2 separate regions of the Homo sapiens genome follow, and region 2 is linked to region 1. A link means that fine-mapping ties the variant in region 1 to the expression of a gene that starts in the linked region. Tissue or cell type: whole blood. Region 1 holds a variant in brackets; the other region holds the start of a gene. All regions are shown on one strand. Distances are from middle to middle.

The links. PIP is the estimated chance that this variant, and not a neighbour inherited with it, causes the effect.
Region 2: it holds the start of TTC12, and the variant in region 1 is fine-mapped to the expression of TTC12 in whole blood (TOPMed, PIP above 0.99).

Annotation. Positions count from the first base shown.
Region 1 is chr11:113,366,806-113,372,028 of GRCh38, reverse strand. It overlaps a transcript of TTC12 not described here. Among named protein-coding and RNA genes, the nearest start is that of ANKK1, 18 kb to the left of the region's middle. The variant ACAAT/T (reference allele first, on the strand shown) is at 2,908.
Region 2 is chr11:113,312,177-113,317,399 of GRCh38, reverse strand. TTC12 (tetratricopeptide repeat domain 12) reads right to left here and starts at 2,817. Exons shown (of 22, transcript NM_017868.4): 1 at 2,782-2,817; 2 at 1,085-1,157. The coding sequence starts at 1,142. It overlaps TTC12-DT (TTC12 divergent transcript), which reads left to right and starts at 2,944. Exons shown (of 5, transcript NR_199709.1): 1 at 2,944-3,070. RefSeq lists silencers at 2,447-2,546, 2,439-2,733, 2,757-3,006.

The DNA of each region.
Region 1 (5,223 bases):
TTAAGAACCCCAGAAAAGAGCATATAGGGATGGCCGGGTGGGGCCATCTATGGAAGTATGCTCAACCAACATGACCACAACAGGAGTGCCCATCTCCTCAGGGCTTCCATGTGCCAAGTACGGTGATGAGAGCTTTATAGAAATCATCTCATTTAATCCCCACAACAAACCTAAGAAGTGGGTATCATATCTCCCCTATTGCCTTTTACAGACAAGGCAATCGAGGGGCTAAGCCACTCACTAAGGTTATGAAACTTAAAACTTAAAGCGAGGTTATGAAATTTAAAGCAAGGTGGAGGAGGACTTTGAGCCTGCACTCCCACCACTGAGCTTCCTGCCTCTCCGGGTCTTGTTGGAGTCCCTACCCCACTCTGGACCATTAGTTCAGAGGGTTCTTGAACAAAGGTAAGAACATTGAAGATACTTCACTTGGCCTTTCTGAGTCTCAGATTCCTTATTTATAAAATAAGGGGGCATGGACTAGCCATTTTGGAGCAATTAATTGTATTTAGACAATGAATCAGATGGACTCCAACAAAGCAGATACAGTCAGCCCTCTGTACCCTCGGGTTCCAAATTTGCAGATTCAACCAACTGCAGATCAAAAATATTTGGGGAAAAAACAATAAAAATAACACTCCAACAATAAAAAATAATACAAATTTTAAGAAATACAGTATATCCACTATTTACATAGAATTTACATTGTGTTAGGTATTATAAGCAATCTAGAGATGATTTAAAGTATATGAGAATGTATGTAGGTTATATGCAAATATGATGCATTTCATATAGGGGACCTGAGCATCCCAGGGCTTTGGTATCTGTGGTATCAATCCCTGGTGGATACAAAGGGATGACTGTAGAGGATTAGATGATCCCTGAATACTTTTCAGCTTGGACATTCTAGGAGCCTTTTCTTCAGCCTCTTGTTCCAATAATTCTCACTATCTTGCTGTGCCTTTGATCTAGTGTAAATCACCTTGCACGTTAACTCACCTATTTTAATGTGCAAATTCATCTCCCAGCAGCAGCGAGATGAATTCCGTGTGTGTGGGGGTGTGTGTATGTGTGTGCTTGTTGCCCGAGGGGAGTTGAGGGATCTAAATGAGCATCCAGAGCTGCTGAAGATAAGAAGCCCAAACATAAAGTTGGGGACAGATGTGACAATGGAGTGATGCTCAGGCTGAGCTGAATCAGCACATCTGGCAGGCAGCCACCCTCATTTAAAGCAGTTCCTTCCAACCCGCTGGTGACAGGAGCCCTGCTCCAGAACTGGGGAGATCTGAGGCTGGGGTGGCTGGCAGAGGTAATCGGCAGCCCACTGTTCCCTGCTTTGCCAGCACCCTAAGGCTCCCTCCTACCTAAGCCAGGGCTGAGCCTCAGAGCAGCCAAGAAAGCCTGATCCAGCCCCAGGGCAAAATCAGACCACAGGGCAGAATGTCTCCAGGGAGAACTCCTTCATCATTTTGCCTTTTTGAAATTGAGATCAAATTAGGAGTCTTATTAAAAGGAAATAAGTCATCCAGCAGCTTCAGGTCACAGAAGCCCAGTGCTTGGCTGGCATGTGGCCACCCACAGGGCCGGGAGCTGCTGGAGGAGGTGGTGGGCAACTGGATGTCCCGCTGGGCTAGCACTCCTCTTTCTAGGGCATCAGGGAGGGTAGGGGGATGCAGCTCTGGGGCTTTAGGAGAAAAGAACTAATGACATCCTGATGAATATATGATTGGAGCTACAGTCATTGCAATCAACAGGTTTTCCTGATTATAAACTGAGGACAAACTGCAAGTAACAGAGGAGTATCTGTTTGCAAAGAGGATTTTAGAGCATTGATCCTAGCACCTTCCACTTCACACTGGGTCCTGTTGATGCCCATGCACCCCTGGCCCCAGGCCCTGACAAGGAGCGCTGCTACCCTATCCCTGAGCCCTGAGTTGCTCTGAACCCCATCCCACCCAAGACCAGTGCTCTCAGGCCCTGCTGCCATGGGGTCATGTAAGAAGGCAGGCTTCTGGCTGGCAGCTGGCTCTTGGGGGATCTTCATGTTTGCCACCAGTCACAGGAGAGAGGGAAAGGTAAACAGAGCCAAATACATGCTTGCCTTCAGTGAGACGGAGGACCAAGGAAGATAAGCAGATCCGTGAGGGTGGGAGGGGGCAGATAATGGGCTCATGGTCATTTCTGTTCTCAAAAAGAGTCGCCATTAAGTAAATACTTTCTATCTGTCAGTCACCTATGCTAGGTACTTCATGTATATTATATCCAAACCACAGAAGGAGAGGTAGGTGTTGATGCTCCCATTTTATAGAGAGGAAACTGGGGCTCTGAGAAATGTGGTGACTTTTCTGCAGGTCACACTTAGTAAGGAGAGGAATGTTTTACATGCAGGAAGAGTTAAGAACACAGCTTGGGGTCAAATTCTGACTCCCCTGCTTCCTGGCTATGTGATCCTGGGTGGGAAAGTACTATTCTGTTTTTATCTTATTTACCTGTAAAGTGGAGATAATACCCACCTCACAGTCGTTATGAGGCTTATGTTAGGGCAGGATCTTCAAGTTTTGATAGGGTGCCTAGTGCAGAGCAAAGGCACAATGCACGGGGGGTGGGGGGGCGGGCATGGTGGCTCGCATCTGTAATCCCAGCACTTTGGGAGGCTGAGGCAGGTGGATCACTTGAGGTCAGGAGTTCGAGACCAGCCTGGTCAACATGGTGAAACACCATATTTCATAAAAATATGAAAATTTGGGATACGGACGCATGCCTGTAATCCCAGCTATGGGAAGCTGAGACATGAGAATCACTTGAACCTGGGAGGCAGAGGTTGCAGTGAGCTGAGATCACACCACTGCACTCCAGCCTGGCCGATAAAGTGAGGCTCTGTTTCAAAACAAACAAACAAACAAACAA[ACAAT/T]GCACAGGCAGGCTTTATTCTTTCTCTCTGCGTGTCTGCAGGATGCCAGTCTATGAGGACCAAAAGCTCATTCCCTGGGAAAGGGAGTCAGCTCTAAATGGGTTTTCTTCACCTCTGATTATTCTCTCCTGTAACGGAACCCTTGGAGAGCCTCTATTTTCAAGTTATTTAGAAAATGAGACCTCTTACTTAAAAAAAGTCATGTGGTATTAAATGTCTTCTTGTCCTCAGAATATTAGGTTAGTGCAAAAGAAATTGCAGTTTTTGTCATTACTTTTAATGGCAAAAACTGCAATTAGTTTTGCACCAACCTAATACTTCTTAGTCATACTTCCCCTCAGTTCTCCAAGCCAAGAAGCTCTTATTTGAACCTATCCTTAAAAAAGTGTTTACAATAGCAGCCCGTGACCTGTTGCAGCATCTCAGCCCCTTCCTATTGTTTCCTCTCAACTCTGAACCTCAGTCCCACCTTGCGGCGCACTGGAACCACCGTCCTCACGTCATGTATGAAGACAGTGAGCAGCTCTGGACTGTCTGTTACCTGCCACCTCTGCTGTGGCTTCAGGATGGTGATGGAGTTCCATCCCGGCCACATCCTCTTTAGGATGGAAAATCCCAGCTCCTCTGCTTGTTGAACCAGAAGACTCTGATTACCTGGAACAAGCCGTGTCTCCAAGGGTGGTGTCGGGGCTCCTGGCAAGTGGAGATGAGGCCTTCTGAAAGATGGCGCTGGTATTTTCCATGCTGCCTGGAAGGTCTGCATGGTAGCATGTGTTAGGGGTAACAAGTTTGGGGCGGTGGCGGGGGTGGATCCACACTGGAGAGGGAGAATACTAGCATGTGAAACATCTCTTCCCACCTGCGAGGAGACAGAGCTTCAGGTGCAGCAGACTCTCTTCCAAATTGGAGATGACTGCTCTCGGCAGGCACTCTGGAACAATAAACATAATAACGTAATTTGACATTCCCCACTCTTTGGGGAAGAGAATACACCTATCATAGCCATTTTCAAGAGCCAAGAAGGAGGGCAGCCATAGCAGGGGAAGGCGGGGCCTGAACTTCAAAGGAGACAGGGCTGGTGGTTATGAACACAAACAGCCTTTCCGTTTTCAAAGCTCCACGGAATTCTGTGAAAACAGCAACTTTTGCACCCTCTAATTTTCTTCTTTGTGCTCTGATTAGCATCGAGCCGTTCTCCCTTTGCAATTCAGTAGCCTCTTGAAGGGTGTTTGTTTGCATGATAGGACTGATGGGCAGGTCCTGGCTAGTGGCCTGTCACTTGCTTGCCACCCAGGGCGCCACCACAGAGTGCCCCAGTGAGCTCCCTCCAGCCATGCGCAGTACATCAATCTGAATGAGGGGCTCAGGCCATTGATTTTCTTCCACCGCCCACCCCCGTCACCAAATGCCAATTATTTATCTCCGTTTCAGAAACGAAGTTCTTAATTTAAGCCAACAGCTGCCTTACCTGTGAAGAACACTTTCTTTGGGTGTGTTGAATAACATCTCCCTGGAGGAGGAGGATTTCCTTTCCTACATGCTTCAGAGAATGGCCAGCTTGATTCCTTAAAGGACATGAGCTTCATCCTTTCCCAGACCCTTCAAACTTAACCCAAATGACGTCATAGTTGACACCCTCAATCTCAAGATAGAGTCTGGTAATCTCTTATATTTGCGTAGTACTTTATAATTCCCAAAGTGCCTTCACCTCCAAAACTTCATTTAACCTTTACAACAATGGAGGAGGTAGGTTGGGCAGGTATTAGTGTTTCCAGAAGCAGTAGCCAAAGCTCAGAGAGGTTAAGCAACTTGCCCAAAGTCACATGGCTGGCAGGGCAGGTAGCAGGGTACGACCAAAAGTCTTTGGAACTTTGGTCTGGGACTCCTGACATTCACTGTACCATGAAGACCCTGCCTCCTACTCTAAAATGATTCTGTGATTGTAAGGAGCCAGAGATAATGCCACTTATTGGACTTCTCACTTAGGGACTTGCAGTCCACAGGTGACCCTGGTTTAGAGTGACCCTGGGGCAACTGGAAGGGAGCGTTGCCTCTGGGGATGGGGTGAGAGTACAAGGTGGGTTAGGGAAATCAACACATTTGCATCAGTCAGGGTTCACTGTAGAAAGAGAAGCCTGTGCTTTGGCACCTTTAGCAGAGAACAATCTAACCCATGGAACAGGGTGCCTATAGCACCACCAGATGGGCTGGAGGAGGGTGCCAGAGGGACCCCCAGGAATGATTCCCAGAATGATTCACGCAGAGTTCTCCTAACAGGGGAGACACCACCTACCACTCACCCCACTGAATTT
Region 2 (5,223 bases), 55 kb after region 1:
ACCTGTAAATTTCTGGATGGTGGTGTCACCAACTGAGACCAGGATGAAGGTGAGGGTAGGAGAAGCAGGTTTTATTTGGGAGGGGGAGGGCAAAGGGGAGGGAAAGAGATGATGCCTCAATTTTGGACACATTTAAGTTTATTTGTGGGATACAGTAGGTATGACAGTACCATAGAGGCAGAGGCTCAGAAAAGAAGGCTAAGTGTCCATGTAGATGTGGGGGTCATGAACAAACAGGTGGCAGGTAAAGCTACATGTTTAGACCAGCTGAAGAGAAAGGTGGCAGTGGGCCAAGGCCAGAGCTCCATGGAACAGCATTCAGGGATAAGCATTATTCATGTATCATTTACGATGTCACCCAAGCTAGCTTTAAAACCACTTTATTCCTTGAACCCATACAATCTGCTACAAGCAGCAATTTCAGCATATTGCCTGTATTTACTATGTAAGGTCTGTTTGCTTGTTGGTTTGTTTGTTTCTATACTCAAGCAAGCTCCCTGAACAGGGACTGACAGGTTTGGAAATTCCTGAATGTGATCTGTGGGATCAGAGTACATTTCTTTGAGATCCAACCTGCCTGAACTTGGGAAAGGACTTTCTTGTCTAGAGAGAGAGAAGGGAATGATGATCATAAACCATCCATGTAATTTGATGGATCCTAAAGGAAAGCCATTTGATTTTGCCTCTGCAGCTCTAAAACAGAAATGGCTCTACTCTAAAACGGGAGGAATCTCACACTGATCAATGAGGTTCTTGACCCTTGAAGGGAACAGCTGGGTTCATTGTCAATGGGGAAACAGCAGCTGGTTTTGACTGGATTCCACATAGAAGGATACAAAATATGGAAGAAAACCGTCAGCCTGAATTCCTATCAGAATGTTAACAGTTTCTCTGATACCAATTAACAGCCAGAAAATACAGCCCTGAGGCTATAACTTGTTTCTCAATACCCTTCTCTTTAATTTCAATTACATTTTTTTCCTAAGAGTTATAAACCTGTCAAGCCACCCAGGAACTTAGAGCAATCATTTATCTACTCCACTTCTCTAAAGCAGAAATTAATTTATGATTTACTAGTACTTACAGATTTCATCCACATTTTTAAGAAATTTCTGCAAATCTTTCTCTTTATCAGCATCCATTGTGAACCGGAATCCCTAAGGGATGCAGCATAATGGTGAAATTAATAATAATAAAGCACTAAACAGAACGGTCAGGCTTATTAGCCTTCTAAAACTAAGAGCCAAGTGATTATTTTTATGACAGTTTTGTTTATGTCAATGAATAACAGCAGGGTGATCCCTTTCATTCCAACTGCTGTTTTAGGCCAAGAGGCACTCATTTACGTGCGGCAATGCTTCCAGAAAGCTTCCAGCCCTCCTTCCAGTGCAGAAAACGCTCTGCAAATAGTTCTTCCAAAGCCAACATCAACCCCGGCGATTTAGGGACCTGGCATGGAGATGAGAAGAGAGCAGATGACAGGTTGCCAAGGATAGAGAAATACACTAACACCTGACTTTGATCATGACAGGCTGGTCTAGTCAGAAGCTTAAATGTGGATGTGTGACAGGTAACAAACTTGGGGCAATTTGCATCTAAATGTCCATACTTGTTTAAAATCTGCCTTTGGCTTGTTTCTGAAGAGTGAAGAAAGGGTACAAATTGACTGAAGGGATTAGAACATAATGTTACCATGCTCACCAGCGTCTCTTCTGCTCTAGGTACCTCAGATATTATTTTACAGTTGTTTTTGTGCGAGAAGGCCCCGTGGTGTACCCAGCAGTACTCAGTGGTTCATCCACAGATCATAAAAATCATCGGGAAGATTGTTAAATATACAGCTTCCTCAGCCGTAGCCCGAGATTTCAAGTCAGTAAACCCGGGACATTGCCCAGACACGAATATAGATTTTAAACACTTTCCAGGTGATTCTCATTTATGGCCAGGTTTCATAGTAGTGTAACACGCTTCTAACACGTAATCTGCCACGAACAAACTACGAGTGATTTAATCGAGTCTCAGTGTCCTCATCTCCACCAGTTACAAGCTGTGTGATTCTGGCTAAATTCACAACCTCTCCGAGCCTCAGAGTCCTCACCCATACTATGGGAACAGTAAGAGAGAAACTACGAGGACTATTCTGGGGACTGATGTAAAGCACCAGGCACGCGACGAGTCCTCACCGTGAAGCACCCTTACCTATATAAAACAGGGGGTGGGGTTGCGGCTTAACTGAATAATCGCTAGGGTTTCTTCCAGGTCAAATCTTTTCAACTCCCACGGAACAGAGGCCTAGTCCAGTGAATTAATCTGCCCAACGGTATGAAGGTTAGAAGGCAGGCGCGCGGGTGCATGGACAGGAGACAACCTCTGTCTCCCAGGGCATGGATCTCAGGGTCCTCACTGCCTGGCCAGTGCCCCCCTACGCTAGGGTGAGAGGGCCAGAGCCAGGTGATGGCGAAGCGGCGCCGCGCTCAGTGCTTCACTCGGTAGGGCTGCGGCAGCGGGGACCTGTGCCCGAGCCCCGCGCGGAGCCTGCCCCAGACGCGCGCTGCCCGCCGGGCGCAAAGAGGCCAGGCCGCACGCACTGTTGCCCAGCAACCGCTCCCAGGCGTCCGCAAGTCCCGGGCCCTCCATGCAGGTCCCAGACCGCAGCCGTCCCAGACCGCAGCCAAGACCTTCCCATGCTCTGGGGCCCAAAGCAGCGTCCTCTGCTCGGCTCTGAAGGCCAGTGCAGGACCAGCTCCCAGGGGGGATTCCGGGGTACCCCGCGGCACCGACCTGATTCGCCCAGCTTTGGACAGGAAATGGCGCAGTGACCTGCCTGGGCTGGGGCGGGGCCAGGAGCCAGGGGCCCGGGGCGGGACCAAGGGCGGGGCCAGGAGCCAGGGCCCGGGGCGGGACCAAGGACGGGGTCAAAAGCCAGGAGGCGGGACAGGGGGCGGGCATGGACACGCGATCAGATTCGCTACCGCAGAGCTCTAGCTCCGGAGCGCGCCAAGTTGAAGGCCAAAGTCGAGGTTGGGATGCCCGATGCCTGGCGCGGGGAGACGGAGGAAGCAAAGTGCTGGTAACTAAAGCAGCGCCTGCTGCTCGCCTTTTTTCTACTGAAGAAGGGTTGTCTCACTCCCGTTAGCTTAATATCCTTGCCCAAAATGTAAAGTCTCCAGTGTACTTGTGAATCCGGTTTTGTTCATTGATAAATGTGTGAGTTAGAAGACTCACACATTTATCCTTAGGAAAGTTATTTGAGTAACCTTTTTAATCCTCAGTTTTCTCACCTGTGAAATGGAGAAATGGCACTTTCTCATAAGGTTTATGGTTAAAGTGCTGTAACCGCCCAATAGGTTCACCTTGCTCACTGCCTAAACAGAGTCGATTTATCAAGACAGGGGAATTGCAATAGAGAAAGAGTAATTCACACAAAGCTGGCTGTGAGGGAGACCGGAGTTTTATTATTACTCAAATCAGTCTCCCTAGCTTTCAGGGATCAGAGTTTTTAAGGATAATTTGGTGGGTAGGGGTCAGTGAGTCGGGAGTGCTGATTGGTAGGCTAGGAGATGAACTCACAGGGAGTCAAAGCTGTCCTCTTGTGCTGAGTCAGTTGCCAGGTGGGGGTCATAAGACCAGATGAGCCAGTTTATTCATCTGGGTGGTGCCAGCTGATCCATCGAGTGCAGTGTCTGTGAAATATCTTAAGCACTGATCTTAGGTTTTACAATAGTTGATGTTATCCCCAGGAGCAATTTGAGGTTTAGAATCTTGCAGCCTCTAGCTGCATGACTCCTAAACCATAATTTCTAATTTTGTGGCTAATTTGTTAGTCCTGAAAAGGCAGTCTAGTTCCTGGGCAAGAAGGGGGTTTGTTTGGGAAAGGGCTGGTATTGTCTTTGTTTCAAAGCTACACTATAAACTAAGTTCCCCCCAAAGTTAGTTTGGCCTATGCCTAGGAATGAACAAAGACAGCTTGGAGATGAGAAGCAAGATGGAGTCGGTTAGGTCAGATCCCTTTCACCATCTCAGTTATAATTTTGCAATGGTGGTTTCAGTGCCTGGTACCTAGTCAGTAGGAACAGGTGGCACGTGACATCCGGGGAATCATAGGGTTTAGAACAGAATGAGCTAATAGGCACATTCATTCATGCCCCAAATACATGCACACAGCCCTAAAGAAATTTCAGTCTGTTTTTCTAAACAAAATCTCAGAGTATTATGTGCAGGGTTACCAATGGAAAAAAAGCAGGTTTAGGGGAAACTTGAGCTTAAGTTCACGGTCAGAAACACCCGGAACTTCTTGGCAAATGAGTGCTTTATGGAAACCTGTTTGGCAGGGAACAAGGAGCCCCTAGAGATGGAATTCGCCAGAGGGGAGAGGGATCCAGGCATGGCCAGCTAGCTCTAGTGTTGATTCCAAGTACAGCCTGTTGACTCTCTTGTGGCCTAGGCCCCATAGGATGCATGCCTGTGTCCTGTAGAGAACAGAAGAGCTGTTTGGCTGAAGTCTCTATGATGCATTGGTACACATACCATCCTGCTTGGGTACCCCTCTAATGCAGTATAACACAAAGGGGCCACGGATGTTCTGCTCCTCTTGGCAGCTGAATGGGTACAGCATCAGCAGAGTGAGTCTTTTGGCTCATCAACTGCAGCAGGAGACCTGGGGATCCCAGCAGGACATGGTCACAGTGGCTGTCCCAAGGGAATGAGGTGCCTCAGGAGAAGTAGCAGACAGTGTAGGTGCCTGGCAGGAGCAAGGACGTTGATGAGCACAGGCTAGGCACACCATAGGGATCCTCAGAAAGATATAGGGTACTTCACAGTGACCTTCCAGCCTGTGGGAATTGATGGAGACAAGAACCAGTGATGTTTTGGTTATCACCATTAGTATCACCCCATTTTCCTCTTAGGCCTGTGAGGCCTTGAATACATGAAGGCTATATGCCTATGGTCCCCAACCTCAGGGTGTTTCTTATCACATTGAGGCCAATAGTTCCAAATCACTTACTTCCTATCCTACTACTCTTTTCACTAAACTCCTTTCCTAGGTTCCAGAGGTATCTGCCCACAACTGACTGTACCACCTAACCATTCACTCACACATTTGTTCAGCTAGTGTGAGTGGCCTGTAGTGTGCTAGATGCAGCGGAAGGCCCCTGGGGTGCACTTGACAAATAGTCATCACATGCTAAGTGGTTAAGAGCTGGGGCTCTGGAGCCATTTTGC